Linked DNA regions of Homo sapiens. The protein of the gene in region 3 interacts with the protein of the main gene of each other region in a biochemical or structural test. Each region holds a gene or a part of one and is shown on either strand. Other genes may lie near its edges.

Region 1 (5,745 bases), on a different chromosome or scaffold from region 3:
ATGACCATACATTGAAATTTTAAGGGCTGTTATGAAAAGCAGGGGCAAAAGCCACATCAATGGAGTAACTTGCTCGCAAAACAAAGGGATAGAGTAGCAGCATGATTATTTTACTTTTACCAAGCCTCTTTCTAGCTCTGTCAGTTCTTTATTTTGCTAAGCCATGACTCTCCCATGCCTTTTACAGCAAGTTGGGGGACCAAACAAATGAATGTGAATGGGAATAAATGGTGGTACTTCAGAGCAGAATGCTCAGAAGCAGAACATCTCTTATTTATGTAATTTGTGATTTTCCTTAGTAATAGTGGCAAAAACTCATTTTGTTCCCGTATGAAAATTAACCAATATTAGTCAGGCACAGTGGCTCATGCCTATAATCCCAACACTTTGGGAGGCCAAGGGGGATGGATCACCTGAGGTCAGAAGTTTGAGACCAGCCTGGCCAACATGGTGAAAATATAAAAAAATTAGCCAGATGTGCTGGCACGTGCCTGTAGTCCCAGCTACACGGGAGGCTGAGGCAGGAGGATCACGTGAGCCAGGGAGGTGGAGGCTGCAATGAGCCAAGATCGTGTCACTGCACTGCAGCCTGGGTGACAGAGTGAGAGCCACACTCCATCTCAAAAAAAAAAAAAAAAAAAAGAAAAAAGAAAATTAACCAGTATTATAAACTGAGTTACTTCCAAAGTCCAAACTTCAACTGCTGCTGGAATTTGCCTATACCGCCCCAAAGCACTTTTTCACCTACGGGCACCAAACGACTGTCTATTTCCAATTCTATGATATATATGTTTTTCTCTCCACACTTTACCATCTCTGAAATTGGGGTGTCTTACAACTGTTGATATGACAGAGTTTAATTGGCAGTATTTTTTCTTAATGATACATAAAATAATGGTTCATATAATAATCAAAGGAATCACAGATTTGATGAAATATGGTAGATGCTACCAGAACACTTTGGGAAAACTGGTAACTAAACATCCCAGGGAATGAATATGAGATTGATCCTTATCCATCTGAACACTTCATTCAACACCAACCCATGTGCCAGGTAAAAAAATCCACTGGTCTTATAATTTCACAATTGCGTTCTAGTTCCCAAAACAGACTTGCTCTCCGACAGAGACAGCTGTGCAGGAAGTGAGCCTGCTTCTCTGTGGGCTCATCTTTGCTGTCACAAACAACTGGATGAATCTTTCCTACCAAGTTGTTGCGGTGAAGGGCCTCTGGGGTTGACATACAGTTAGACATACTCATTGACAGCACAGAACCCAAAAGGCTGCCTCTGGAATTATTACCTGGTCATTCTCTAACTTGGAATGCAGCTGGCTGGGGTGGTGGAGCCCATCGGAGACAGTCTTGCCGCCTGTTTTATTTGGTAGACTCCTCCTACTGGAAAGCTCTCCAGCAGAAGAATCTGTCAAACCATCAAAATCTTTTCCCTCTGACACTCCCATAAATTCTGTGAAAGAATGGTCTTCAAGGATGTTGGTGGTGTGTTCTACCGTCACCTCCCTGGGGCAGAATCCCCTGGCTGGCTGGCTAATTTTGCTGGGGCAGGCATCTAGTTCTGAACATGAGCCAGTCCTGCACAGTGATTTGGAGTTTTTCTCAGGGATGCTCTGGGATGATGGGCTCCCTTTGGCTAAGGCACTGTTTTCCTTGAGTGGCACCACAATTATCTTGTCCTTTACCAAGCCTTTTTCGACTTCTGTCAACTCTTTGTTTGAGGACGGCCTGAAATCATGCACAAGCGATGGTGTGGAGTGCTCGGTGGAGTCTGCATCCTTCGTCTGAATGGCCAGCTGGTCTGAGCTGTCACTAGAAGGGACCACCATGTCAGACAGGGTGGCATTGGAGGCACTGTGGGAAAAGTAGCCACTGGTAATACTGCTGGTGGTAGGGCTACGGGACACTTCTTTCTCCAAGACCCGTGAGTTTGACAGATCTACTTTAGAGGAAAACCATTCCCTGTTCTCCAAGCTGGCATTGTAAACACTGAAGTCAGCAAACTCCACAGGTACATAAGGCTGTGAACTTATTAGCTTCCTGTTAATAGCTTCCAGCTCATTTTCTTCCTCCTCAGAGTCCTATAGAAGTGAAGCAAAAGTCAGTCATTAGCTCCTTGTAGCAACTGTACTGTTGAGACAAGTTTTAAATACTTGGCTGTTAAAGGCATTCACATTCACATGGTGTTCAGTGTTTTCTTTTTGTCTTTCCAAATTTGGCCAGATCTTGTCACCTATTGTAGATATAGGTGTATCAGTATTCTCAGAGACCTGTGAATATAAACCCCTTATCATCTAATATGAAGGGGATTTAGTTCTTTTAGGCTCACTCAGTGCTAATTAGAAATCATTCCTTCCCTGGTTTAAGAGAAAGAATGGAACTGAAGTGCAGTGGACATTTTGTTAGTTATTCAAAATTAGCTTTTAGTTGTGATGTTTTCTCTTTTCTCATTAAATGAGCAGAGAAACAGGCAGAAGCAGAGAAGAGCCACTCCTTTTGTCTTTAGAATCTTCACCTTGGGAAGCAAAGTGCAGGCAGTTAAGGTAATTTTTAAAAAGTTTCTCAGCTATTTTATGGGGGAGAAGAGAGTAAAACAAAGAACCCAACTGCAAAAGGGCAAAAAACACAATTTCAACACTCATTCTTATATTATGCTACATATCGTAAGGCTATAAAATACTAACAATCTGACAATTACGGTCTTCTAGGATTTTTGAGAAGTATGAGTAGAGGGTTTGGCTAGAAGGTGAAGAAGGCATAGTGAAATTTAAATGAAAATCTCCTTTGTAAAACAGTTTTCAAGCCCCTGTTCACAAAAATTGGTAAATACATGCAAAAGTGGGTGTCACCAACTCCCCAGTCTCTCTCCAAATGAATGATTCTTTTATATTTGGTAGAAAAAATGTGGGTATTTTAAGTCCAAATAAAATAAGTGATAAACTCTCTAGCCATTTCTAATTAATCTCAGAAGCACCTAATGAAATCGCAAATATTCCTTTTAAAATATGTCTTTCATTCAACAAATACACACTGAACATCCACTACATGGCAGCCATTGTCCTAAGGACTTGGAAATAGCAATGGTGAGCACAAGAAGGCATGGTCCCTCCCTCAGAGAATTACAACTTTGCGTCCTTGCTCTTAGAACAATCCTGGATGCTGCATGGATGGATAAGAATTTCATTCACAGGTAAACTTAGACACCTCAAAAACAGTTAGCTTTCTTTCATTGGTCATCTGGTTTAAAGCATCTGTACAATTAGAACTACTAGGTGCATGTAAAGACCTGGAACCGAAGCATCAGCCTTACTCATTAAGTTTGCATTTTATTAATTTACTTATTTTATTTTTAAGATTTATTTATTTATTTATTTATTTATTTATTTATTTTGAGATGGAGTTTCACTCTTGTTGCCCAGGCTGGAGTGCAATGGTGTGATCTCGGCTCACCGCAACCTCCATCTCCCAGGTTCAAGCAATTCTCCTGCGTCAGCCTCCCGAGTAGCTGGGATTACAGGCATGCGCCAGCATGCCAGGCTAATTTTGTATTTTTATAGAGACAGGGTTTCTCCATGTTGGTCAGGCTTGTCTCAAACTGCCGACCTCAGGTGATCTGCCCGTCTCAGCCTCCCAAAGTGCTGCGATTACAGGCATGAGACACCGTGCCCGGCTAGGATTTATTTATTTTTATTTATTTATTTTTTTACAGACAGGGGTCCTGCTCTGTCACTCAGGTTGGTGTGCAGTGATGCAACTGTAGCTCACTGCAGCCTCAAACTCCTGGGCTCAAGCAATCCTCCAATCTCTGCCTCCTGAGTAGCTGGGATTACAAGTGTGAATCACTGTACCTGGCCCATAACATAAATTTGCTTTTTAATCGAGGTGGGGAGGGGGGATTTATCTTCAAGGCATGGCAAATACTTGTTCACAAATGAACATAAATTTCATCTGTTTAGATTAATAGTAATATTTTCTTTTGCATCTCAAGATTCTATATACCTCAAAAAAAGTTTAATACTCTCTTAAATGCTTCTCAGCTTTTAAAATAATTTAGTTTTTATAACTTAGTTGTAAAAATGTGACTGAAAATAAATGTGTAAAGGAATTGGTGATCCTAATTCTTTAGCTGTTAATCAAAGGTGAATATCAAATATCAGTGATAAAGTTCCTGAAATTGGCAAAACAAAATTTTTGGCAACACTAATCTCTTCTCATCTTTATCTGCATTCTAAATTAAGTAGCATTATCAAAAAAGTGGGGTGGAGCATTCTTTCCCAGGGTTGGGCAGAATGTTGGAGAAGGAACAAAGATTGAACAGAATTGTCTGAACCAGTAGCCTTTGCCTATATTTTCTAGATTCTCTACTTGTCATGTTTAGACTCAAAATTAATTTTTTTTTTTTTTTTGAGACGAAGTCTCACTCTTGTCGTCCAGGCTGGAGTGCAATGGCGCGATCTTGGATCACTGCAACCTCTGCCTCCCGAGTTCAAGTGATTCTCCTGCTTCAGCCTCCCAAGTAGCTGGGATTACAGGTGTCCGCCACCATGCCCGGCTAATTTTTGTATTTTTAGTAGAGACAGGATTTCACCATGTTGGCCAGGCTGGTCTCGAACTCCTGACCTCAGGCGATCTGCCCGTCTCGGGCTTCTAAAGTGCTGGGATTACAGGTGTGAGCCACCATGCCCGGCACAAAATTAAATTTCAAGTGTTTGTATCTCTTCTATTTCCTTTTGATTTAAGTTGGCAAACACAATTCTCCAAGTCCAAGCATACCTGATGCAATTAATTACTAAATTACTATTTACTATAATTAAGTACTGAAAAGTTATTTACTTCAAGGAAAATCAAATTTAAAAATGAGAATTAGTAATTTGGAGTCCTTTATATGCTTGAAGTTATTTCTTCTCGAGACCAAGGAAAGGCCTGTTATCCTAAAATACAATTTTGCTGAATGAAATATGTAATCATGAATTCACTGAGTAGAAATAGTTGTAAATTTATCAAAGATAATAAATTATTCCTCAAGGATTAGAATGACATTAATAAAACTAAGAATCTACAAAGCCCCAAGAGATTAAGTTCAAATAGGGAGCAGTTCACAGTGGGGAAAATAACCCAAAAGCCCAGAGGGAAAGACTAAAACAGTAGGGACAGCTTATTCCAGAAAAAGGAAAACTTAGTAGAGATTAAACATTTTCCAATACTTAAAAGGAGATTGAATGTTTATTGAGTTATTGCCAATTAAGGGAGGATTTAATTGGCTTAAACTCATATTTTTGAGGGAGTTTGGTTTAGATTTTTTATACCAGAAATCTCATTTCTCATCATAGCTTAAAGAAGAATAAACTAAGCACCTTCCTACAATGTCTTAAGGAAAAAGATAATTAAAACCCTATCTGAAGTGGCACATGGAGTCAAGTTCTCAAGCTTCTCTATAGCTACAGTCTTCATCTGAGTTTTGCAAATTTAACTTATGCAGCTGATATTTACCTATACAGAAAACACCTTGATTTTAAAAAGGGACTGAAATCCACATTAAAGCAGTGACTCTTTGTAAGGAGTTTCCTTCATTAATGCAATTTCCACTCCTATTATAATCATGTCGTGCTGTTCACCAGAGATCTCTGTTTGCAGAACTGCACCAGCCAAGGGCTCCAGTACTTCTGTCCATGGTACTGAGGAGTGAGCCCTTTATCTGAAGAGCAGCTGCAGGGCATACTGGAATTGCACTAT
Region 2 (8,854 bases), on a different chromosome or scaffold from region 3:
TCCCCTTAAAATGTGCAGTTACTGATTAACTTTCCTTTTTTTTTTTTTTTTCTTGAGATGGAGTCTCACTCTGTCACCCAGGCTGGAGTGCAGTGGCGCAAAATCGGCTCACTGCAAGTTCTGCCTCCCGGGTTCACGCTATTCTCCTGCCTCAGCCTCCCGAGTAGCTGGGACTACAGGCGCCCGCCACCACGCCCAGCTAATTTTTTTTGTATTTTTAGTATAGATGGAGTTTCACCGTGTTAGCCAGGATGGTCTCGATCTCCCGACCTCGTGATCCGCCCGCCTCGGCCTCCCAAAGTGCTAGGATTACAGGCGTGAGACGGCGCCCGACCCTGATTAACTTTCTTTAGCAGTGAAGGACTGTCAAACTAAAGTTCTTCTTCTAAAAGATAATTTCCTTTTTTATTGTAAAATATAGTAGTGGAGTTTTTAAAAATCCCAATAGTTCAGTGATAACCACATCCTTAATACGTAAGAACAAACAAGAAAATTGTATCTGAAGATACTATAGCCAAGTCTCTGATAAATTCAAAGGGAAATCGACATCCCTTAAAATATCCAGATACTGAATTTACTTTTCATCAGTTAATACTTATAGCAACAGCCTGAGTGCCACTGGAGCCTACATTTTTATTAAAAGTTAGTCATTACTACTAAGCACATTCTCCCCACCCCTTGAAGAAGACAAAGAAAAAACACAACTACTCAGGTGTGGGGAAGGAGTGTGCATATGGGGGAAGGGAGGAAAGCACCAACTTGACTCTCTGGGAACAATTAAAAAATGAGACTTTGGTTTGACACAAGAATCACCAGCATGTCAGAAAACAAAGGAAGGGTCTTCTTTTAATAACTGCTTCGTTGCTCTTCTTTTTCTTAAAATGGAAATGGTTTGTCACAATGTAAACATGGAAATGAGCACCATGTGGAACAGTGATTAGGCAGCCGAAAGAAACTAACAGAACTACTGGAATTTGCCTTTGGAGTGGTGTAGATAACGAAGTAGGAAGTCCTTACGCATGCTTTAAGGCTCGTGTTTAATCAAAGACACATGCAATTCGAGATTAATATACAAGAACCACTTTTCGATTTTTTGGAAAAAAATTAAGTTCAGGATTAACTATGAAATAAAAATTTCACTATATATACCTGCACTAGTTGCTAAACTGCATTCCACTTAAAGGACAGTACAGATAACATGCCTCAGTAGACCAGAGTGTAAAAACACACTGACCACCACTAGACAGATCTCTATGTCATAAACCGTCTTCTCTTTTTTCAAACGGAGTCTCGTCTTTTCTTTTTTCAAACGGAGTCTCGCTCTGTCGCCCAGGCTGGAGTGCAGTGGCGCGATCTCGGATCACTGCAACCTCCGCCTCCCGGGTTCAAGCGATTCTCCTGCCTCAGCCTCCAGAGCAGCTGGGGCTACAGGCGCGCGCCACCACGCCCAGCTAATTTCTGTATTTTTAGTAGAGACAGGGTTTCACCATATTGGCCAGGCTTGTCTCGAGCTCCCGACCTCAGGTGAACCACCCACCGCGGCCTCCCAAAGTGCTGGAATTACAGGTGGGAGTGAGCCACCGCGCCCGGCCTATAAACCGCTTTTAAGGTTGCAAGATGAGCATGTACTAGGATGTGTAACTGGTAATTTCTGGAATGTCTGGCAACAAACCTCAAAATCAAATTTCCTTAGAAATCCTTGGCCTAAGTTTTATTTTTAAAAAGGTCAACACAAAATTAATACGTTAAAAAGGTGGCAAGTTCTATCGCATTAATAAAACCAAAGCACAGCACAGGCAATAATATATTAACAAGAAGGTAATTATTTCAGTAACAGCAGCAACAGGTTCCCTGGAGGAGAATCCCCATTTCTCTACAAACGCTGCACCTAGATGGATTCAGAGCACAAAATTTACCACAGCACAACATCTAGCAGACCGAAGTCAAGCAATGCTGATCTTTCAAAGAGATTTCACATTTCTTACCATTTTCTACCTTAACACTCCACAAAAAAAGCAAACACCTATCGAAAAATAAAAAATAACGTTTCTAGCAACCCAAAAGTAGCTCAGAGATCTCAAAAACAAATAGACAAAGGGGTGCTGATGCTAACAAAGTGACATTACAAAAACTAAGTGCAAAAGTAAACCCACTCCTCACAGTGTATCACAGATCAGTTAATGGCTCAGGTATAGAGCCTCCTCCCCCAGGTCCTCCCTTCCGTGACCGTGACTTCCCCAGTGGCTATTCTACATCAAGTAACTACTGAAAACGCCCAAGGAAAAGGAGCGGGGGAGGGTGGCTTTTGAAAATTCAGGTAGCCAAGAGTGACTGCTAATTTCATAAACAATAACGTAAAACAAGCAAACCACCGCTCCTAGCCAATGACGAAGCAGGAGTCAAAGTTCCACCACGTAATTCGGGCCTGGGCCTTTTTTCAGGCAAACACGTAATCGAAAGCACAGTCATTTCCCTCTTGATATTTTATTCATGCCGGCAATGCCATTCACAATGAAAAGGTAGCAAAACAAAAGAAAAAAATAACAGCAGCGAAGGCAAAGGGGCGCGGGGCGTCCCAGCCTCGGTCCCTCCCCGGCCGCGAGCCCCCGCAGGCCGGGACGGGAAGCGCCGCGTCCTCTCCGCCGAGGTCTCGACCCCCACCCGCCCCGCGGGGGCGAGGGTCCCCCAGGCGGCAGCGGGAGGGGACGTGGGGGCGGCGGGGACGCCGGACGCCACAGAGCGCCAGTCGCCTCGGGGGCCTCCCCGGGCTGCGGGAAGTTTCCGTCCCGCGGCCCCTCCCGGCGAGCCCGCCGCAGCCCACGCTCAGGTGCAAACTTCCCAAACCTCGCTGCGCCCGGGGTCCCAACCCGCGCCCAGACCCGACGCCGTCCCCCGGTGCGATCCTGGTGGTCTGTCTGCACTGCCCGCCGCACCCATGCCCAGAAGGGACTGGCTGGGCCGCGGACCCGCCCGGGGACTCCACCGAGGAAGCGGAGTGGCCCCTCGACCACCCCTGGCCCCGACCCTCCCCGCGGCCCCGGCCCCGACCCTCTCCGCGCCGCCCCGGGCCTGAGCGACCGGCCCGGCCTGCGCCGCGCGCCCCTCACCTTGGTGGCCATGGCGGGCGGGTCCCCCGGCCCGGGACGGCCGGCTCGTCTCCCGCGCCGCGGATGGTGATTCTGAGCCGCGCAGGCAAAGGCAAGGGCGAGGGCGGCGGCTCCGGCTGGGCCCCGGCGCGGCGGCCGCTCCTCCGCCTCGGCCCCGAGTCTCGACGCTCAGGCCCAGCCGCTGGGCGCTCGGCTACTCCCGCGCCGCACGCTCCTGCAGTTCCTGAAAGTCCCCGGCTGCGCGGCCCCCGCCCCTGTCGGCCGAGCCTCCCATTTACCGCGGCGCGCGCGACGCCCGCCGGAAGCGCGCCCTGGGCCCTCGGCCGCGGCCCGGCCTCCTCGCCTCCTGGCCGCCCCCGCGCCGCGCCGCCGCCCCGGGCAGTCACCGCCGCCGCCGCCGCCGCCGCCCCCGGGCGCCCTTGGTCGAGGCTGGGAGCGGCGTCCCGCGCAGCGGCGGGGTCCGGACGGGCGCCCCAGGCCATGGCCCGCAACCCTGCGTGGCCGCCCCAGGGGAAGCGATCCGCGGCCCACAGAGCCGCTCGGGGTAGCCGAACCCCGACTCCGGTTCACGCTCGGCCGGCGCCGCACGCCGTGGCTCGGCGCTTTCCGTGCATGAGGCGGGAGGGGGCGGCAGGAACTCTCGACGCCCCGGGCAGACAGGAGCCCCGCAACCCCGCTGTCTTTGCCCCACGCCTGGGGTGTTGCGGGGTCGCCGTGCCCTTGGCCGAGTACCCTGAGTACCACATAAACAGCTGGGAAGGAGCGGAGCGATGGCTTCCTGGGCCTCTTCCTCCTGCCCGGAGGCTCCCTCAGGCCGGGGTCCTGGCTTGAAGCCCCTGGGACGGGACGGTGGGGGGTTTCGTTCTGTGACGCCCCGTTAACCTCATTCTGGAATCTTGATAAGCTTAAAAATACCGGAGGGCCCGAGAGGTTTGGGGGACAACAGGCTCTCTGAAGTGGAAACGAGGTCTCTAAAATTTTCCATCTTTCTGTCAGTGTTTCTTTCCAGAGTTGGAGATATATATATGGGTGTTATGAATAAACGAATGACTTGAATTGAGCAGCAAGATTTTTCACTCAAGGACAAAACACGACTGGAAGATGTGTCTTAATTGGCATACTAGTGGAGTGCTTTTTTATTATTATGAGGGATATATTTGTAAGAAGAGACAACTATCAAATGTAAATCTCTGGTGTTTAATGTCAAGTTTGTGTCTTCTTAAATACATTCTATTTGACCTGAGATTTCACTAGTTATATTCAATAATGGGGTTTAAAATAGATACGGTATTGCAGAATTTTCTGTGAATTTTTGTGTTTGTTGAGCTCATGGTTAAGCTATAGTCATCATAATATGCATAAATAGTTGTCTTTCTCCGTAAAAAAAAATATTGGGAGGCCAACATTCATTGACGGCCTGCTTGCTGTATACTAGGCTTCCACATCCCCATCTCATTTAATCCTTATAAGAAACATTTGAGAAACTCATTATTGTCCACTGTTTACAAAGAAGAGCGACTCAGGGATCACTTAAATAACTTGCCCATTTGGTAATACTTATTCAAATCGAAAATGACCGTAGCCTTGGACCCAGCAGCCCTCCTGGGAATTTATCCTGTCAAACACTTGTACAAGTGTTCAAAGATGTTCATCAAAGATTGTTCTGTAATAACTCCAACCAGAAAGCAACCTATGTGTTTGTTAACAGGACTGTTTCAGTAAATAAGATACATCCATTCAAACAAAAATACTAGGAAGCCCGTAAGAAAATGATAATATTCTAAGAGGTGTTAAGAAAGATAAAAAGAACATTATGTATGGTACATTTATGTAAAAAAAAAAAAAAAAAGGAAATATGTGACACATTCCTAGAAAATTTCTGAGAAAGATTCGCCAGATCCTGTTGTCAGAGTTTTTGACCATGTGTATATATGACTTCATTTAAAAACAGCAGTTATATTTTAATAAACAATGGAAGAAATAACTTGGCTAAGAGCACACACTAGTATGTGGAAAAGCCAGGATTTGAACTCAGGCAATGTCATAAGTAATGAGTTTTCCATATTCTTTTAAATGTGAAGGCTGGGTACAGCTCTCTCTGCAGCCGTTCAACAATGCATCCCTTGATAGGAAGGTGCAAAGTTAGGGGCACACCTGTGAAGACAGGCCTTTCCACATGCTCATCTGGCAAATCCTATGCAAATAGTCATCCTGGGCACCCAGCACCATGAAAGCAAGAAGACTAGAGACTTCAAGCTTTTCCCACCAGAACAATTTCATAACCCTGGTTTTATTTTTTAGAAGTAATGGTGGAGGGCTAAGGTGGAAGGATTGCTTAAGCCCAGGTGTTCAACACCAGCCTGGGCAACATAGTGAGACCTCATTTCTAGAAGTTTTTTGTTGTTGTTGTTGTTTTAAAAAGAGCAAGACTGTGAAAAACAAATGAAAAAGTACATAAACAGAGATAAACATGGCCGGGCGCTGTGGCTCACGCCTGTAATCCCAGCACTTTGGGAGGCTGCGGCGGGCGGGTCACGAGGTGAAGAGATCGAAACCATCCTGGCCAACATGGTGAAACCCCGTCTCTACTAAAAATACAAAAATTAGCTGGGCATGGTGGCACGCGCCTGTAGTCCCAGCTACTCAGGAGGCTGAGGCAGGAGAATCACTTGAACCCGGAAGGCGGAGGTTGCAGTGGGCCGAGATCGAGCCACTGCACTCCAGCCTGGGCAAGACTCCGACTCAAAAAAAAAAAAAAAAAAAAAGAGATAAACATGTGCACTTTCACAATAAGCCACACCGAAGGGATCTTGAACATAACTAAAATCTTTTTCACATTTTTAGTAATGAATTGGGTAGTATATCTCCAGTAAATACTGCTAAACTTAGGAGTTTTATTTTTATATACGTCAGTCAAAATCAACATTACTTCATGAATGTTATAGAGGAGACCCACTTTCATAGAATATATTTGTATATAGAGAGAGAGACTGGGTCTTGTTCTGTCACCCAGGCTGGAGTGCAGTGGCCCAATCTCGGCTCACTGCAGCCTCCGCCTCCCAGGTTCAAGTGATTCTCCTGCCTCAGCCTCCGCAGTAGCTGGGATTACGGGCACCTGCCACCATGCCTGGCTAAGTTTTTTTTTATTTTTTATTTTTTATTTTTAGTAGAGACAGGGTTTTGCCACGTTGGCCAGGCTGGTCTCAAACTCCTTATCCTAAGTGATCCGTCTGCCTCAGCCTCCCAAAGTGCTGGGATTACAGTCGTGAGCCACTGCACCCGGTGGTGGCGTTTGTCTTCTGCTCCCACTTGATCAACCATGCATATCTCTCTTCTGTCCACCTCCGTCCTTTGAGCGAGCTTCCTTAGAGTTGATTCTCTACGCAGGCCTGCCTTTAGAACCCAGAACCCAGAACCCTGGGCCATGCTAAGTTCAGATTTTCTTCTACAGCATGAACTTCCATTACTCCAGGGGTGAGAACACAATTAGTTAAGCAATTGGATTTGCATTTGCAGACTGCGTTTGGTTATTACTAGATTGCACTTTCAAAAGAAAAAGACCTGGAGGCAGAGCAACAGAGCCACTCTGTTTAGGCTTTGTACTCTAGCTGCTTTTTTTTTTTTTTTTTTTGAATCATGCCACAGGAGGTAAAGTGATTAGGATTCACAGGAAGCTTCGTCCAGCCACACAGCTGGGGGGACAGGAAAATAATGACCACCACCTCTTCCCTGCGTTTGTTCAGTATGGCCAGGTGTTTTTATTCAAAATTAGATTCTCCTTTGGTTTTTAAGAGCTCAGAGCCCAACTAAATGCTTGGTCAACTAATGGGAAACTAGCATGGGAAAGTGCAACTATGGGAACTAATGTGGAACGGAGTGAAAATGTGTGATGGTCACCTAATGTAAGGATCGGAGGATGAGAATAATGTGTAACAATACAGAGTCAGCCTGGGTCTGGCACAAGGGGATACCTCCTCTCACTTTAGGGCATGAATTTAATGAGGTTAAAGAAAACCTTGGGGTGACCTTGAAAATAAACGTGGAAAGGAGTGCAGCTGGTGCCATTCCAATCCTAATAAACGTATGACGTCCTCACCTTGGACTGGATGCTGTTACAGGTGAGGGAGACAAAAGTCCCTGCTCTCTTAGAACTTAACAATCTGTAGAGGGTGGGGGAAGTCAATAAACTACAAATAAATGTCTAATGTGCCAGGTGCTTTTATAAGTGCTCTGAAGAATCTTTATAGGAATAAAGAGAAGCAGGAGAGGTTTTTTCCTATAAGGTTTCCCCTTGGCATTAGACTAGCTGAATGTATGTATGAAAAGTGTATGGTTTTAAAATTATGTTTGTTTTAGTTGGTTAGCTGATTGGTTGGTTTTCATTTTTGTTCCATTTTGACTAAGTCACATTTCTTTCTCCATCGTCTGGGAGACACAGAGCCGTAAACAGTAACGGGACATAGTGTCCAGAACTAGAAATTGAGCAGAAATCTGACTGCTAGGACCTGAGCAGTCCAGGAAGGGACAGTTGGCATGGGCAGAGAGAGACTGGAGGCTAGGGAGGCTGCATGGATGGCAGAGGTGGCAGCAGCAGGCGGTGTTAGGCTGGAACAGGAACCGTTTGCTCAAGGTTCTATACTAGACTGTTTGCTGAGTTTGGGTAGTTCCGACTCCCAGAAGGACTGAGCTGTGAGGTGAGGGCAGCAAGAGAAGATTGGCTCACCAGTTGGCTTCCCAAATGAAGTCCCAGCCTGTAGGATCCCTGGTGTCTCATGAAACTTTGCCCTAGGATATTGTTTTAATTCTTTGACCTGTTAAGGACAGGCTGGCGTGAGTCCTTGGAGACGTACTGGCATTCAGTGATTGGGCACAAAGAAGTAACAGTGGATATAGGACATTTTGCTAGTTCATGTGTCATTGCTCAAGTTACAAACTGTGATGGTTAAAACTGAGTGTCAACTTGATTGGATCGAAAGATGCAAAGTATTGATTCTGGGTGTGTCTGTGAGCCTGTTGACGAAGGAGATTAATATTTGAGTCACTGGGTTGGGGAAGGCAGACCCACCCTTAATCTGGGTGGACACCATCTAATCAGCTGCCAGCACAGCTAGAATATAAAGCAGGCAGAAAAACGTGAAAAGAATAGACTGGCCTAGCCTCCCAGCCTACATCTTTCTCCTGTGTTGGATGCTTCCTGCCTTTGAACATCAGACTTCAAGTTCTTCAGTTTTGGGACTCAGACTGGCTCTCCTAGCTCCTCAGCTTGCAGGTGGCCTATTGTGCGACCTTGTGATCATGTGTGTTAATACTTAAAAAACTCATATATATATGTATATATATATATGTGTGTGTGTGTGTGTGTGTGTTTGTGTATATATCCTATTAGTTCTGTCCCCTCTAGAGAACCCTGACTAATACACAAACTATAGAGAGTTCTTTTTTTTTTTTTTTTTTTTTTTGAGACAGGGTCTCACTTTGTTGCCCAGGCTACAAACCAGTGATGCAATCACAGCTCACTGCAACCTTGACCTCCAGGGCTCAAGTGCTATTTATTTATTTATTTATTTATTTAGAGTCAGAGTCTCCCTCTGTTGCCCAGGCTGGAGTGCAGTGGCACGATCTTGACTCACTGCAACCTCTGCCTCCCGGGTTCAAGCAATTCTCCGACCTCAGCCTCCCAAGTAGCTGGAATTACAGTGCCTGCCACCATGCCCAGCTAATTTTTGTATTTTTAGTACAGATGGGGT
Region 3 (8,302 bases):
TATACGAAAAAAACTACGAAATCTATAAAATATTTGTTGAAAGACCTAAAATAAACTTGAACAAACAGACACACACTACAGCAAGGAAAAATTATCATCAAAAACTGTTAAGGCTGGGTGCGGTGGCTCACGCCAGTAATCCCAACACTTTAGAGGCCAAGGTGGGAGGATCACTTGAGGCCATGAGTTAGAAACCAGCCTGGGCAATACAGTGAGACTGTGTCTCTACACTGCCTCCCAGATTCAAGCAATTCTCCTGCCTTACCCTACCGAGTAGCCAGGACTATAGGCGCGTGCCACCACGCTCAGCTAATTTTTTTGTATTTTTAGTAGAGACAAGGTTTCACCTTGTTAGCTAGGATGATCTCAGTCTCCTGACCTCGTGATCCGCCAGCCTCGGCCTCCCAAAGTGCTGGGATTACAGGCATGAGCCACTGCACCCAGCTGGAATGGATTCTAAGACAGTTTCAGAAACCAAAGAGGAAAAGAGGGATATATATAATTACCTGAAAATGTCTGTGACATAAATAAGATTAAAAGATAAATGAGGCCGGGCGTGGTGCGGTGGCTCACGCCTGTAATCCCAGCACTTTGGAAGGCAGAGGCAGGCAGATCACCTGAGGTCAGGAGTTTGAGACCAGCCTGGCCAACATGGCGAATCTCTGTCTCTACTAAAAGTACAAAAATTAGCCGGGCATGGTGGCGGGCACCTGTAATCCCAGCTACCCAGGAAGCTGAGGCAGGAGAATTGCTTGAACCCAGGAGGCAGAGGCTGCAGTGAGCCGAGATCACACCACTGCACTCTAGCCTGGGCGACAAGGGTGAGACTCTGTCTCCCAGGAAAAAAAAAAAGGATAAATGAAAGACAAGAAAAATACACGTGCCATATAACAAAGAATTAACATTCCATAAGCGCTCCTACAGGAGGAAAAAAAAAGAGAAAGAAAAATGAAGCAAGGACATGAGCAGACAATTCTCGGTAAAGGAAATCCAATGGCTATTATACGTATCAAATAAGGCTAGCCCCAGTAACAGGGAAGTTAAAATTAAGACAAACTGCATGACCCATTTATCATCTAGCAGACTAGTAAAAATTAAACTATGTATTTATACCCAGTGGTTTCATGATATGGAGAAGTTACTGCTATTTGGGATGAAAATTATGATAACCTATTTAGAGAGTAATCTAGCAATAATAATATTTAAAATATATTTCTCTGTTAACCCAGAATTCCCCCTTTGGAGACTACAGAAATAAAAGCATCAGCATATAAGGCGGCATGTACAAGGATATTTATTGTAGCACTTTGTTAAGTGGCAAAAATCTAGAAATGATCTAAATGTCCACAGGAAAATAATAAATTATGGTACATCCACGCTATAAGACACAATAGGACTGTTTAAAGGAACAAGATAGAATTATATTTACTGTGGGCTGAGTGCAGTGGCTCACACCTGTAATCTCAGCACTTTGGGAGGCCACAGGAGGCAGACTGCTCAAGTCCAGGAGTTTGAGACCAGCCTGAGCAATACAGCTATATCTCATCTCTTATTAAAAAACTAATAGGCTGGGAGCGGTGGCTCACACCTGTAATCCCAGCACTTTGGGAGGCCAAGGTAGGCGGATCATGAAGTCAGGAGATCAAGACCATCCTGGCTAACATGGTGAAACCCAATTCTACTAAAAATACAGAAAATTAGCGGGGTGTGGTGACAGGTGCCTGCAGTCCCAGCTACTCGGGAGGCTGATGCAGGAGAATGGCGTGAACCCAGGAAGCAGAGCATGCAGTGAGCCGAGACTGCGCCACTGCACTCCAGCCTTCGTGACAGAGCGAGGTTCCATCTTAAAAATAATAATAATAATAATAATAATAAAAAATTATATTGGCTGGGTGCGGTGGCTCACGCCTGTAACCCCAGCACTTTGGGAGGCCGATGCAGGCAGATTGCTCAAGCCCAGGAGTTCGAGATCAGCCTGAGCAACATAGCAAAATGTCATCTTTTAAAAAAATAATAATAAAGAATTATATTGCCGGGCACGGTGGCTCACGCCTGTAATCCCAGCACTTTGGGAGGCCGAGGCAGGTGGATCACGAGGTCAGGAGATCAAGACCATCCTGGTTAACATGGTGAAACTCTGTCTCTACTAAAAAAAAAAATACAAAAAAATTAGCCGGGTGTGGTGGTGGGCGCCTGTAGTCCCAGCTACTCGGGAGGCTGAGGCAGGAGAATGGCGTGAACCCAGGAGGTGGAGCTTGCAGTGAGCCGAGATCGCACCACTGCACTCTAGCCTGGGTGATAGAGCAAGACTCCCCATCTCAAAAAAAAAAAAAAAAAGAATTATATTGGCCAGGCACGGTGGCTCACACCTGTAATCCTAGCACTTTGGGAGGCCAAGGTGGGAGGATCATGTGAGGTCGGGAGTTCAAAACCAGCCTGACCAACATGGAGAAACCCCCCCGTCTCGGGTCGGGTGCGGGGGCTCACGCCTTTAATCCTAGCACTTTGGGAGGCCAAGGTGGGCAGATCACGAGGTCAGGAGATGGAGACCATCCTGGCTAACATGGTGAAACCCCATCTCTACTAAAAATACAGAACATTAGCCAGGCGTGGTGGTGGGTGCCTGTAGTCCCAGCTACTCGGGAGGCTGACGCAGGAGAATGGCGTGAACCTGGGAGGCAGAACTTGCAGTGAGCTGGGATCGCGCCACTGCACTCCAGCCTGGGCAACACAGCGAGACTCCGTCTCAAAAAAAAAAAAGAAAGAAACCCCATCTCTACTAAAAATACAAACTTAGCGGGGCATGGTGGCACATGTCTGTAATCCCAACTACTCGGGAGGCTGAGGCAGGAGAATCACTTGAACCTGGGAGGCGGAGGTTGCGGTGAGCTGAGATCACGCCATTGCACTCCAGCCTGGGCAGCAAAAGCAAAACTCCGTCTCAAAAAAACAAAACAAAAATGAATTATATTGGCTGGGCGCGGTGGCTCATGCCTGTAATCCCAGCACTTTGGGAGGCCAAGGCAGGCAGATCACTTAAGGTCAGGAGTTTGATACCAGCCAGGCCAACATGGCGAAACCTCATCTCTACTAAAAATACAAAAATTATCTGGGTGTGGTGGCAGGTGCCTATAATCCCAGCTACTCTGAAGTCTGAGGCAGGAGAATCACTGAACCCAGGAGGCGGAGATTCCCACCACCTGGGTGACAGGGTAAGACTCCATCTCAAAAAAAACAAACAAACAAAAAAAAAGAATTATATTTACTGACCATGACATGTTAAAAAAAAAAAAAAGCGTGTCATAGAGTAATATAAATAATATGATCTCTCTTTAGTAAAAACAAAAAATTCCTATGTACACTTACGTGAGTATGTACAGTACTTAACTAAGCATTGAGAGAAATATTGAAGCGTAAATTCATTCATAATCTGTTAAAATTTGGGGTTAAAATTAAGACTGTCATAGAACAGATGATGTAACACTACAGGGTAAACACTATAGGGTAAACATCCCTAATCCAAAATCTGAAATTCTCCAAAACCTGACATTTTTTGATTGTTGACATGATGCTTGAAGAAATGCTCTTCAAGGCCGGGCGCGGTGGGTCACGCCTGTTATCCCAGCAGGGGAGGCTGAGGCGGGCAGATCACAAGGTCAGGAGATCACGACCATCCTGGCTAACATGGTGAAAGCCCGTCTCTACTGAAAATACAAAAAATTAGCCAGGCGTGGTGGCGGGCGCCTGCAGTCCCAGCTACTCTGGAGACTGAGGCAGGAGAATGGCATGAACCCGGGAGGCGGAGCTTGCAGTGAGCCGAGATTGCGCCACTGCACTCCAGCCTGGGCGACAGGGCGAGACTCCGTAACCAAAAAAAAAAAAAAAAAAGAAAAGAAAAAAATGCTCTGCAAGTGTTTCAGATTTTGGATTTTAGGATTAGGGATGTACAAGTGGTGTAACGCAAATATTCCAAAATCTGAAAAAATCCAAAATATGAAACATTTCTGGTCTCAAGCATTTCAGATAAGAGATACTCAATGTGTATTTGGTTGAAAGAGCTAACTTATATAAATGATTATACAGTTGTACAACTCAAAGTAAAAGGAGTTCCATTAGTGTTTTTACAGCTCAAGTTAGTGAACCTATTTAACTAAACCTCAAAACTAAACAACTGAAAAAGTGTTCAGTCTTAAAAGGAAGCAAAAGAAGCGTTTTTTACTTACCTCTTTTTTTTGAGACAGTCTATCTCTGTCACCCAGGCTGGAGTGCAGTGGCACAGTCTTAGCTCACTGCAGCCTTGAACTCCTGGGTTCAAGTGATCTTCCTGCCTCAGGCTCCCAGGCAGCTAAGGCTACTGGCAAAGACACCACAACCCAGCTACTTTAAAAAATTTTGGGCCAGGCGCGGTAGCTCATGCCTGTAATCCCGGCACTTTGGGAGGCCGAGGTGGGTGGATCACCTGAGGTCAGGAGGTCAAGACCAGCCTGTCCAACATGGTGAAACCCCATCTCTACTAAAAGTACAAAAATTAACTGGGCATGGTGGCGGGCGCCTGTAATTCTAGCTACTTGGGAGGCTGAGGCAGAAGAATCGCTTGAACCCAGGAGGCGGAGGTTGAGGTGAGCCGAGATCGCACCACTGCACTCCAGCCTGGGTGACAGAGCAAGACTCTGTCTCAAAAAAAAAATTCGTACAGCCAGAGTCCCACTGTGTTTCCCAGGCTGGTTTCAAACTCCTGTCCTCAAGTGATCCTTCTGACTTGGCTTCCCAAAGTACTGGGATTACAGACATGAGCCACCAGGTCTGGCCAGCGAAGTTTATTTTTAGGTTGAGAAAACACGTAACATCTTTACATATCTTTGAAAGATTTAAAATATTTTAGCCAGGCTCGGTGGCTCACACCTATAATCCCAGCACTTTGGGAGGCTGAAGCAGGTGAATCACCTGAGGTCAGGATTTCGAGACCAGCCTGGCCAACGTGACAAAACCCCGTCTCCACTAAAAATACAAAAAGTAGCCAGGTACAGTGGTGCACGCCTGCAGTCCCAGCTACTCGGGAGGCTGAGCACAAGAATCGCGGGAACCCAGGAGGTAGAGGCTGTAGTAAGCTGAGATGGCACCACTGCACTCCAGCCTGGGTGACAGAGTGAGACTCTGTCTCAAAAAGAATAAATAAATAAATAATAAGATGTTTTTATTTATAAATTACAAAAGTCACATGTATTTTTTCCTCATCTTTTAAAAAAATGACTTCTTCCTTCTAAACCTACTTAATTTGTTGCCAACATTTATGATTTACTAATTAAATCTCTCCAATGGTCTGAGTAGGCTTTTTTTTAAAGTAAAATTTCCAAGTACCTAGTGAAAAAAAGCATTTCTCATTTCAATCATCTCATCCTAAACCTTGCCCTTTTATGCTAAAGTGTTAGTTAATGCTGACTCAACACATTTGGCAAGTGAGTTTTTTTTCTCCCACTTCTGGACCCTTCAAACTTTAACCAGTTTTTCCAGCAACCAAAACTCATGCCATATTAAGTGTATTGTGTTACTAGGTCAGTGAAGAAAAAAACTTAACACGTATCTTCAAAGTAAAAATGACACCTCATTCATGCCTGTAATCCCAGCACTTTGGGAGGCCAAGGCTGGTGGATCACTTGAGCCCAGGAATTCAAGATCAGCCTGGTCAACAGGGTGAAGCCCTGTCTCTACTAAAAATACAAAAATTAGCTAGGCATGGTGGCGCACACCTGTAGTCCCAGCTACTCGGGAGGCTGAGGCAGAAGAATTGCTTGAACCAGGGGGCGGAGGTTGCAGTAAGCAGAGATGGCTCCGATGCACTCCAGCCTGGGCAACAGAGGAGGACTCCGTCTCAAAAAAAAAAAAAAAAAAGACACCTCTTTTCCCTTTTCTATTTCTTGACCTCATTGAAATAAAATTTTCTATACAAAAAGGCAACTGTAAAAATGCTACTACATTTTGATAAACATATTTTATTTATTTATTTTTTTTTTGGAGACAAGAGTCTCGCTCTGTCCCCAGGCTGGAGTGCAGTGGCGTGATCTCAGCTCACCACAACCTCCACCTCCCAGGTTCAAGTGATTCTCCTGCCTCAGTCTCCCGAGTAGCTGGGACTACAGGCGCGCACCATCATGCCCAGCTAATTTTTCTATTTTTTTGTAGAGATGGGGTTTAACCATGTTGGCCAGGATGGTCTCGATCTCCTGACCTCGTGATCCACCCGCCTCGGCCTCCCAAAGTGCTGGGATTACAGGCATGAGCCACCTCGCCCAGCCAACAAAGATCATTTCAAAACCTGTAAGCCAAGAAATACAAAAGATTTCTATATGCTCTCTTAATTTTTTTTTTTTTTTTTTGAGACAGAGCCTCCATCTGTCACCCAGGCTGGAGTGCAGTGGCGTGATCTCAGCTCACTGCAACCTCCACCTCCCTGTTCAAGCAATCCTCCCACCTGAGCCTCCTAAGTAGCTGGGAATGCAGGTGCACATCACCATGCCCGGCTAACTTTTGTATTTTTAGTACAGACGGGATTTCATCATGTTGACCAGGCTAGTATCAAACTCCTGACCTCAAGTGATCCGCCTGCCTCGGCCTCCCAAAGTGCTGGGATTACAGGCATGAACCACTGCACCAGCCTGCTCTCTTAAGTTTAAAATTGCTTGTGGGCAAGGCATGGTGGCACACACCTTTAATACCAGCACTTTGGGAGACAGAGGTGGGAGGACCTCTTGAGCCCAGGAATTTGAAACCAGCCTGGGCAACATGGCGAATCCCCGTCTCCACAAAAAAATAATAAATCAGGCGGCACATGCCTACAGTCCCAGCTACTTAGGAGGCTGAAGTGGGAGGATCACTTGAACCTGGGAGGAGGTCGAGGCTGCAGTGAGCTGAGATTGCACCACTGCACTCCAGCCTGGGTGAAAGAGTGAGAACCTGTCTCAATCAATCAATCAATAAAAATAAAATTGCTTGTTACTTATAAGCTGAGAGGAGTTGAAAAAAAATTGTTTGCTACTTTCAACATTATTCTGCATTAGAAACTGAGTAAAAGCAACAGAGAATAAAGAAAGCCAAAATCAAGAACCGAAAACAGACTGAACGCAGTGGCTCCTCCTGCCTGTAATCCCAGCACTTTGGGAGGCCAAGGTGGGTGGATCACTTGAGCTCAGGAGTTCGAGACCAGCCTAGCCAACATGGTGAAACCCCGCCTCTACTAAAAATACAAAAATTAGCTGGGCATGGTGGCGCACGCTTGTAATCCCAGCTACTCGGGAGGCTGAGGCAGCAGAAATCACTGGAATCCAGGAGGTGGAGGTTGCACAGTGAGCCGAGATCGAGCCACTGCACTCCAGCCTGGGAGACAGAGTAAGACTTTGTCTCAAAAAACAAACAAAAAAGAACTGAAAACAATTCATAAAGCAAGGACAGACTAAATTACAAACACCTAAAACAGTATTTTTAAATGTTCTGAAGCTCTAAGTAAGAGTTTTAAAGTTTTGATAGCAATTAAGTCCTGCTATATACACAAAATTTTAAAATCCTCATCAAATGCAAATAAGGGGATTAAGCATTGTGGAAAATCTGTTTTGGTATGTAGATTGCCAATTCAATTTTTTTAATTAAAAATAATATCTTGGAAAATACTCATTCAACTTTTTAAATTTGTATAAATTAAAAGTTTTGGCCAGGTGAGGTGGCTCACACCTGTAATCTCAGCACTTTGCGAGGCCGAGGCAAGAGGATTGCTTGAGCCCAGCCTGGGCAACATGACAAAACACTATCTATACAAAAAATACAAAAATTAGCCCTGCGTGGTAGCACACGCCTGTAGTCCCAGCTACGTGGAGGGCTGAGGCAGGAGGATCGCTTGAGTCCAGGAGGTCCAGGCTGCAGTGAGCTGAGACCACTGCACTCCAGCCTGGGCAACAGAGTGAGACCCTGTCTCAAACAATAAAAATAATAAAAAAAAAAAAAAAGAGTTTTTATAAATCATAAAGAAGTTGGTTTTGTTTGCATACCACTGATTTTTAAAACTCCTTTTTTAAATAAACACTGGGGTGAAATATCACCAAGGCATTCCTGGCAAATTCTGTACTTTAAAGTTTCACTCTAAAATCTGCCCTCAAATCTAGAACTGCTATCAATGACAGAGGTCAGACCAAAGAACAAGCAACTGCCCCCAAAAGAAAACGGAGGTTTCCTAAACGCAAAGCAGACATTCAAATATGCACTGATCAATGGTGCACTAAACAACACTTTGCTAGGAATTTGTTAAGGCAAAAGG
Region 4 (8,810 bases), on a different chromosome or scaffold from region 3:
TTTATGGTATACTGTAAATATTTACATAAATAGAACCTACAGTAAATTAATTCTCATTTACTGTGTAATTTTCCGATGGGAATTATTCACAAATACAGTGCTAGTAAATTAACCTTTAATTAATTAGCAATCTATCTTTGCAAGGTTTATCTTCAAGTTAGCTATTTGGAACAAGGGTGACAGTGACTGACAACCATAGGATGGAGTCTTAAATCATTATTTCCCTCTTCTTCTCAATTATCCCAAATCAATAAGCAGTGATTCCCCACCTCCTTTCTTCCTCCCCACTTAGTTCTGACCTTTTCCCTTTTCTTGGGAATAGGTCTAATCCACAGACCTATGAGCCCCTACCCTAGAAGGGAAAGGCCAGAAATAGACACTAGGAGTGTGACAAAGGGCTGTTAAATGGTTGCCAGCAATAGGGAAGAGTCCAGGCAAGGGAAGTTAATGCAGAGGAATCTGGAGAGGCAAACAATTCTTAATTAAAAACATTTTTTTAACTTAGAAGCTCCTTGTATTTTAAAAGAAAGTCAACACAAAATAATACTAACTCCTTTCCTGTCCTTTTTTTAAATATACAATGCTGAAAGAAGAGTGATACTTTATATATGTTTTAAAGTTAAATACCTAAACTTTTAATTTCTTTTTTTTTTTTTGAGATGATGTTTTGCTCTTGTTGCCCAGGCTGGAGTGCACTGGCATGATCTCAGCTCACTGCAACCTCCGCCTCCCGGGTTCAAGCGATTCCCCTGCCTCAGTCTCCCGAATAGCTGGGATTATAGGCATGTGCCACCACACCCGGCTAATTTTGTATTTTCAGTAGAGACGGGGTTTCTCCATGTTGGTCAGGCTGGTTTTGAACTCCCGACCTCAGGTGATCTGCCCACCCCGGTCTCCCAAAGTGCTGGGATTACAGGTGTGAGCCACCATGCCCGGCCTTTAAACTTTTAATTTCATTGTGAAGAACTTCATGCAAACCTTAGGGAGAAAAAAGCCATAATGAATGAGCCAGTAACCATCACCCAGGTGTGTTAAATCTTAATCTCTTAACAAGTCAACTTCGGATTTTTTTTAAGGATATAAAGATATGTTTGTAAACCCATGGGCCCCTCCTAGATCCTTCATCCCTCTCAAGTTCTCCAAAGGTCACTTTTAGTCTGACTTGGTGTTTATCATTCCCATGCATGTTGTTATACTTTTGCTACATATTGCACAAATCACAGACAATACATAGTATAGTTTTGCATGAGACTATATAAATGGTCTAGCAAACGGATCTGTCACTTAACAGCTGTTTGACCTAAGGCAAGTTACTTAGTATCTGTGTGCCTCAGTTTCCTCTCTGAAAAATGAGGGATACTACTACTTACTGCCTTACAGGTTGTTGTGTGGATTGAGTTAGTACACTGTATATAAAGCATTTAGAAAACTATCTTGCTCATAGGAAGCAATATATATGAGCAACATATATACTGCTCATGTGTTAGCAATTATCATATAAAGCTGCAAAAGAACTTGTGACTATATCTGATATATGCACAAACTGAGAAAATGATTAGCAAAATGAGATATGTAAAATCCATACAATGCCAGATTTTCAAAATAGTGTAAAAACTAAAAATACTTATAAAGTTCCGGCTAGAAAGGTTCACTATTCTACTTAAAAAGGAATTGAAAGTGCTAAGAATAGAGGGAAAAACCTTTATTTTTTAATCTACAAAGTGTAGGTAACATTAAATTAGAATATAAACATTTTATTTAAATAATTTATGATGATTAAAAAATATCTAAATACTTAGCGGCCTCCTTTTATGAGATTTGGGGGAAGGGTTGGGAGAGAAGGGGCAATCCCTTAATGAGAAGCTATTCAAAGACTTTGCCTGCTGAGGAAAGCACTTTAGATTTCACACAAAATAAAACATTATTTGGTACTCAAATGTCACTACATTTCTGAACTAGTTTTTCACTAAATGTAAGCAGAACAAATGAAAATGTAAAATGATGTTTTATGATATGATTCACCCACACTATACAATTTTCATAACGAAAACTGGATTCGGCAAGATGTATCAAGGCTATTAAGGACATATTATCCTTGTTGTGATACGGGATTATTTTTTAACAGTCTCTAGGTCAAAAGATCAGCAAACATTAAAACTTAAATGCCCTACATATTATGTGAATTGTAGTGGATTTTTTTCCAGAGGTTTTTGAAGATTTAAAAATATATGTGTACTTTGAAGATCAACTGATATATCTAATTTAATCCACGGAGGAACAACTAGAGCTAATGAATATCTGCTAGGTGCCATTTACTGGGCTAGATGTTTTACACAAGATCTGTCTTTTAATCCATGTGAAATATCTTTATGAACAAAATTTAGGAGACTACCACAGATACTTTGTTTAAACAAATATACCTCTGCGAAGTGTTAAAAATGACTACTAAAAAAGCCAACATTTAAACTGGTAAAGCATATAAAATGTACGTGACTGTGTTAATTATATTAACATAATAATGTTGAAACATTTGTTGTCCCTAGAGTTTAGCATATATTTTAATGTCTAAGAGGTTAACTGAAAGCAACAATTAAGTGTAGCATCAAAGATAAACTCTGTGTCTCCCCTCCACCAAATAAAATCCTCGGAATAGGAGGTGGAAGGAAGACTTACACTGTAGGAAAAGTTGAAAACCAAAGTTCTACTTTACTTCTCCTAAAGTGAGAACTTTGAAACGGAACCATTACTTTTGTTTCATCCCCCCGCCCAGTAAAAAATTTACATGTATGAGTCAGTTCTTCCCTCGGCCCCAACAGAAAAGATTCAGTATAACCAAGCTATAACTTGCACAAAGCAACAAGGAAAAAAAAACCTTGCTATCCCCATTACTTTCCTAATAGAGCAAGGACCCTACCACCCCTCACTCCATACTCTGCCTCTGCCCCAAGCAAGACGCAGCACCTGCCAAACCAGGCACTTAAGGAATATGGTCCAACTTTTCAAACGCAAACTGGAGAGGAGACGCAGATAATTTCTTGAAGAGTGCAAGAAGACAGCAGAAAAGGTACTCTGAGGAAGGGATGCGTGAGCTTTGGGGCTGTCCCCTCTGCCTGTTGGAGGATTCCAAATTCGCTTGCTTCAGAGACCCTTGGAAGCAGCACACTCAGGTCGCGGCCAGCCTCGGGCCTCGGTGAAGGAGGCAGTGTTTACACCTGTCACGAGGGAGGGGGAAGGAGAGCGAAGAAGCCCAAGCAAAGCCCCAAACTTCTGAACAGCTCCCTGGAGAACGCAGCCAGCGCGGAGCTTTGGGAGGTGGAAGCAAAGGGGCAGGGAGAGCCGGCGGTGGCCGGGGAGGGAAGGACTCCCACTTACCCGGCCGGTGCCCGGGATGGCGAGGAGGGGGCCGTGCGCTTCGGGCGCCACCAGCGGCGTTCCCGCACTCGCCGCAGAAGAGAGCAGAGCCGGGAGCCCGCAGGCCCGCAGAGCCAGCTCCGTCCTCACAGCTCCCGGCTCCGCGGCGGGCAGATGCTCCCGGCCCGGGTGAGGGTCTGGCTGCTGGGCCGGGCCTGGTCCCCGCACCCTCTTTCCCCGGCGCAGCTAGGGGAGCGGAGCGGCGGCGCTTACCTGGCTCCTTCGGGGCGGCTGCGATGGGCATGGCTCAGGGGCCCGGGGAGGAACTGACTCCCCGGGGAAGGACCGTCTATTCCGACGCGGAACTGGTGAGAGCGGAAGGCCGGCTGCTCACAGCCCTGTCAGCGCAGCAGCACCATGGACGCCCACCCGGAGTTTCACCGCTGCCGCGGGACCCCCATCCCACTACCCTCCGCCCTCTTCCGCCGCCGCCGCCGCCTCCTCCACCTCCTCCGCGGAGACCCCCCGCCCACTCCACACACTCTCCCATCATGCAGCGGGGGAACCGCTGCCGCCGACACGTCACTTCCGGGCGCAGGTGGCTAGGTCGGGACCGGGCGCTGGTGGGTGCTGTGGGGTGGGGGAGGACACTCCAGGGGAATTGGTGTCACAGAACGCTTATCCCTGCGCAGGCGCTGTCGTGCAGAGCGCCGACCGCCATTTTGGGTGCGGGCAAGCTGCCCTTTCCTTTTACTTCCTTGCGAGTCATAGAGCTGTAGGGGGATAGACGTCTTCCCGCACTCAGGCGCCGGTTGAGGCTGCGCTCCTGGCGAAGGACAGGTGCTCCTTTCAGCCGGTTAACGTTCAGCTCAAGACCGGATTAAGTCTCTTGCTCTCCAAATAAAATTGTAAAGGTTTGGAAATATAGAACCACATTTTTACCAAAAACCTACTAGAGAGCATTCGTCAGCTTGCCCTTTTCGCCCCGAAAAACGACTTTTTCATTCACAGCCTGTCTCTTCCTCTTTTTAAATTTATGCCGACAGAGGAAGAAGCTGATATTTAACAAATAACAAGAGGTTGCGATAAATAGAATTTAAGGTGGGAAAGCAGCCGCCAAACTGACAAATCGTCTTCGAGACCGACAAGAAAATAGTAGTCCGGAATTTGGCTAATGGATGGAGAAGGTGGTCGTTTTTCATAGACCCTTACGGAGAATATCTAGTGAAGCTAAAGAGATCACCATAAACTTATGCATTCAAACGCATTTCTGGAACAGAGGTCGTAACCGATTTTGTTTCCATCATCAGTCCTGAACAGTTGATTATTTATATAATCAACTGTTATTTATATAAAGGTAATAAAAATATTACCTTTCCTCCTCCTTTACAATGAATATCTGTTAGAACACCTGCCAGTGTAACAATCAGACTACAAGGCTACAGGATTATGATTACTGTCTCGGATGATGAGCCCGGGGTCCTACAAATCATGACCCCCGCCGGCCCCTCATTCTGCCCATATTTGCCAAACGTCTGCATCAGTAATTTGAATAATTTAAAATAGTTCCAAAACAGCAAAGCTCAGCAGTTACGCAAAGAAACAAGAATGGAAAACATCCCCTCAGGCACAGAGAAGTGTCCACCCCTTTGGGTGGAGGAATTATACAAATCAGGAGAAAGATAAGGACAATAGCAGTTCATCACGATTTATCCCGCCTCTGCAATGTTCTAGACAAATTAACTCGGAGCGCTCCAATGGACCCGCATTTGTCTCTTTACTATTCAATCGCTGTAAGATATACGGAGACTGCATCACTTTAAATGGGAGTATCAATTGCTTTGTGGTTATGCTGGATTTTGTGTTATTGCTCAGTCACTAAAGTAAGAAAAATCTATATGGCTTGTCAAATTTATGCCTATTGTATTTCGCCCCCTGCTGGTTTAGCTCGTGTGCAAGCTTGAATTTGTGTGTGTGTAGAAACTAGAAATTGATTTTAAACGAACACATGCTTGTTTTCATTTTACAGCTCTACTAAACAGAAATATCAAAATAAGAACATATGACTAGACCTTAAAGCAGACCCTACACTAAGAACATGTTTAAACTAAATGAATTTAAACTGCACTCCAGCCTGCGCGACAGAGTGAAACCCTGTCTAAAAAAAAATTAAATTAAATTGCACACCCCCCATCAGCTTACAATTTTGTAATAGGGAAATTGAGTACCTATTTGGCCAACTAACTTGTAATTGGTAATCTTACATGTAATTCCGAAGACAGTGCCCTAATGCTCATGACATTTTATTACAAAGGGAAAGTATTTGAGTGTTTTTAAGGTGATAAATCTGTGGGAAATATAAAGTCCATTTCATTTGGAGTCAATGATAGTATTGTTTTTATTTACCTTTTAAAAATTATGGCCATAACTGCATTACCTAAGATTTGGCATCAAGAAAAGAAGAAGAAAAAAATTACCAGTTAACATTTGTTGTATTTACTTCTAGTTTTTTTTTCCTGTGCGTACTTTTTACAAACTTGTAATCATAATTTAAGTAGATTTTGTGTCCCTTTTGTGTTGTAAGCATTTCCACCCATCGTTTAATGTAAAACCTTAATTTTAATTGGCTGCTTAGTAGTCAATGGAATGACCACTATATGGATAGTTTTCAGTATTATAAAATAATACTTAGATGAACATTTTGTGTGTGTGGCTTTGTTCAATTTTAGAATTTTTTTTCTCAGTATAAAAGTTACTAAGCGAAAAGGCAATGAATGTTTTATTGGTAATTTATCATCTCATATTATTTTCCAAGAGACTGCTAATTTAGAATGCCACCAGCAATATATGAGTGCACTAATTTTACCACCTCCTTACCAACCAGCAGTGAATGATAATTAAGAGGGGAAAAAAAGATGGAAAGAATAAAAAGTGAAAACAGTTTAATTCATTTTATATTGTGTAAGAAATTAACAGACAAGCAAGAACAAAACCTCAGCAATGTGTTGGTGTTCTGGAAAAGCAATATGCGTAGAACCTGGGTCTATGACCAGTTCTGTTGTCACTATGATTTTGTATAAGTTACTCAACCTCTCTTGACCTCAGTCTCCTTATATAACAAATGAGAGAATACAGTCAGATCACAGGTTCTCAACCCTCTTAGGACAAATAATGTTTTGGCACATGTATCTCTTTAAGAATACGGTAAAAGCTTTGGCTCTTTCTATAGAAAAATGCTTGTATCCACAGACACTCAAATTTCTCATCCTAAAGCTCATTCACAGAAGAGGGTCTTTGAACCACAGCTTAAGAAATATGCACCAGATAATCGCCAAGGTCCTTTCTGTATCTAAACATTTACTTAAAATTTTATTTATTTATTTATTTATTTATATTTTTATTTTTTTGAGACAGGTTCTCCCTCCATTGCGCAGGCTGGAGTGCAGTGGTGCCATCACGGCTCACTGCAGACTCAACCTCCTGGGCTCAAGGGATCCTCCTACCTCAGCCTCCGAAGTAGCTGGGACTGCAGGTGCATGTCATCACGCTCAGCTAATTTTTTTATTTTTTGTAGAGATGGGGTCTCACTATGTTGCCCAGGTTGGTCTCAAACTCTTGGGCTCAAGCAATTCACCCACCCTGGCTTCCCAAAACGCTGGGATTACAGGTATTATGTCACCACTACCTCTTGAAATATGTCCTTCATACAGTTCTATAAAAATAGGTTATTAGGCTGGGCATGATGGGTGACGCCTGTAATCCCAGCACTTTGGGAGGCCGAGGTGGGCAGATCACTTGAGCCCAGGAGTTCAAGACCAGCCTGGGTAACATGGTGAAACTCCATCTTTACAAAAAATTAGCCAGGTGAGGTGGCATGCTCCTGTAGTCCCAGCTACTCGGGAGGCTGAGGTAGGAGGATCACCTGAGCCCATGAGGTCAAGAATGCAGTGAGTTGTGATTGCGCCACTGCACTCCACCCTGGCTGACAGAGCAAGACCCCTTCTCAATAATAATAATAATAATAATAATAATGAGCGACTTTCCCAAAGTGTGATGAGCAACAGAGATTTTGTTTCTTAATCATTCCCACTGATCTTTCTTGGATTTGCTTATCAAATTTATTGCATAAATAATAAAAATTACAATTTGGTGTTATAGTACTTCCTGGAGTACTGGATATCTAGAACTTTATGGACATATTCAATGTATCAGGGAAAATATTGAATATTTCAATATTTAATATGTCTTAACCTGTTAAGACAGTATTAATTTTATCCATAAAATTGGAGAGGTAGGGAAGAAACTGCTGTTTGACTACATTATTTCTAAAGGTGCTGAAACTTTTTCAGCAAATTTTTTAAAGGCTCAAATTCTGTATATAAAGTTCTAACAAATTTTATAGAACTTTCCAACGAAAAACTTTTGAAGGATGGGCTTCTGGTAGTGGTAATTGACCTGAATACGTAACATTTAAATCAAAGACCTCAAACTAATTTCCTAGATTTATCTAGACATATTCTTTTGCTACATGAGGACCAGCGTTCCACCCCCTTTGGAGGATTTGACAACAAGGTGCCATCTTGGAAGCAGAGAACAGCACGCACCAAACAACCAAATCTCTTGGCACCTTGATCTTGCACTTCACAGCCCCAAGGACTGAACCTGTACCCACTCATGGGCTTACCACATATGGAGCAATATAGATGGAGTGTTCTCCTGAAGGGAGCTGCAGCCCAACCTTCTTCTTTATTCTAGTCTTCAAGCCTCTCTTTTGGCTCTGAGCAAAGCTTTGAAGGGCTCATTATGTGCTATAATGGTTCCACTATCAACCTGCTATGTTGTGAAATTCAGCCTGATCACCTGGAGAAAACATGACCTTTCTGAGCAACTTGTCTCTCAGGAGAAAAGTCTCCTTTATTTTGAAGGAGATTGGCCTCAGGGCACTGTGGAAGTGATAACTCTATTTCTACTTTTGTCCCTTATTTCAAGGTGAAGAGAAGTGGAAACCTTGCAGTGAGTCATGACAAAAATATATAAAGTAAAACATTAAAATTAATTTCACCTGTTTCTTTTTACTTTTTAAAACTAGCTACTAGAAAATTTTAAATCACAATGTGGCTCACATTATATTTCTATTGTACAATGCTGAACCTTTGTTTAAAACCTACATCTGTCTTTAAATTTGTGTAGTCATAGGATCCAGGGAAATACAATAGAAATAGTTTTCATGCAATTTTAACAGTTGCATGAAGGCAGAGACTTCTGTCTGCTTTATTCATTTCTATATTCCCAACTTCAAGAAAGTGGCCTGGTACATGGTTGATGGCGATACATATTTATTCAGTAAATGACATTCCATTGAATGAGTGGCGTGGGTAGTTCTAGAAAAAAAAATTTAATGTATTTCTGTTTTTTTTGTTTGTTTGTTTGTTTGTTTGTTTGTTTTTTGAGATGGAGTC

What was found.
Region 1: the proteins of AP1G1 (region 3) and KIF13A form a complex in vitro, tested with the Homo sapiens proteins (one study listed by BioGRID).
Region 2: the proteins of AP1G1 (region 3) and SNX9 form a complex in vitro, tested with the Homo sapiens proteins (one study listed by BioGRID).
Region 4: the proteins of AP1G1 (region 3) and AFTPH form a complex in vitro, tested with the Homo sapiens proteins (one study listed by BioGRID).

Annotation. Positions count from the first base shown.
Region 1 is NC_000006.12:17,762,854-17,768,598, forward strand, and holds the end of KIF13A (kinesin-like protein KIF13A), read right to left. Parts: intron 2,094-5,745; coding exon 1,257-2,093; 3' UTR 840-1,256; downstream 1-839. UniProt on the Homo sapiens protein: Plus end-directed microtubule-dependent motor protein involved in intracellular transport and regulating various processes such as mannose-6-phosphate receptor (M6PR) transport to the plasma membrane, endosomal sorting during melanosome biogenesis and cytokinesis.
Region 2 is NC_000006.12:157,817,700-157,826,553, reverse strand, and holds the start of SNX9 (sorting nexin-9), read right to left. Parts: upstream 3,309-8,854; 5' UTR 3,120-3,308; coding exon 3,108-3,119; intron 1-3,107. UniProt on the Homo sapiens protein: Involved in endocytosis and intracellular vesicle trafficking, both during interphase and at the end of mitosis. Required for efficient progress through mitosis and cytokinesis. Required for normal formation of the cleavage furrow at the end of mitosis.
Region 3 is NC_000016.10:71,798,053-71,806,354, forward strand, and holds part of AP1G1 (AP-1 complex subunit gamma-1), read right to left. Parts: intron 1-8,302. UniProt on the Homo sapiens protein: Subunit of clathrin-associated adaptor protein complex 1 that plays a role in protein sorting in the late-Golgi/trans-Golgi network (TGN) and/or endosomes.
Region 4 is NC_000002.12:64,519,427-64,528,236, reverse strand, and holds the start of AFTPH (aftiphilin), read right to left. Parts: upstream 3,910-8,810; 5' UTR 3,625-3,909; intron 2,725-3,624; exon of another isoform or gene 2,672-2,724; intron 1-2,671. UniProt on the Homo sapiens protein: Component of clathrin-coated vesicles.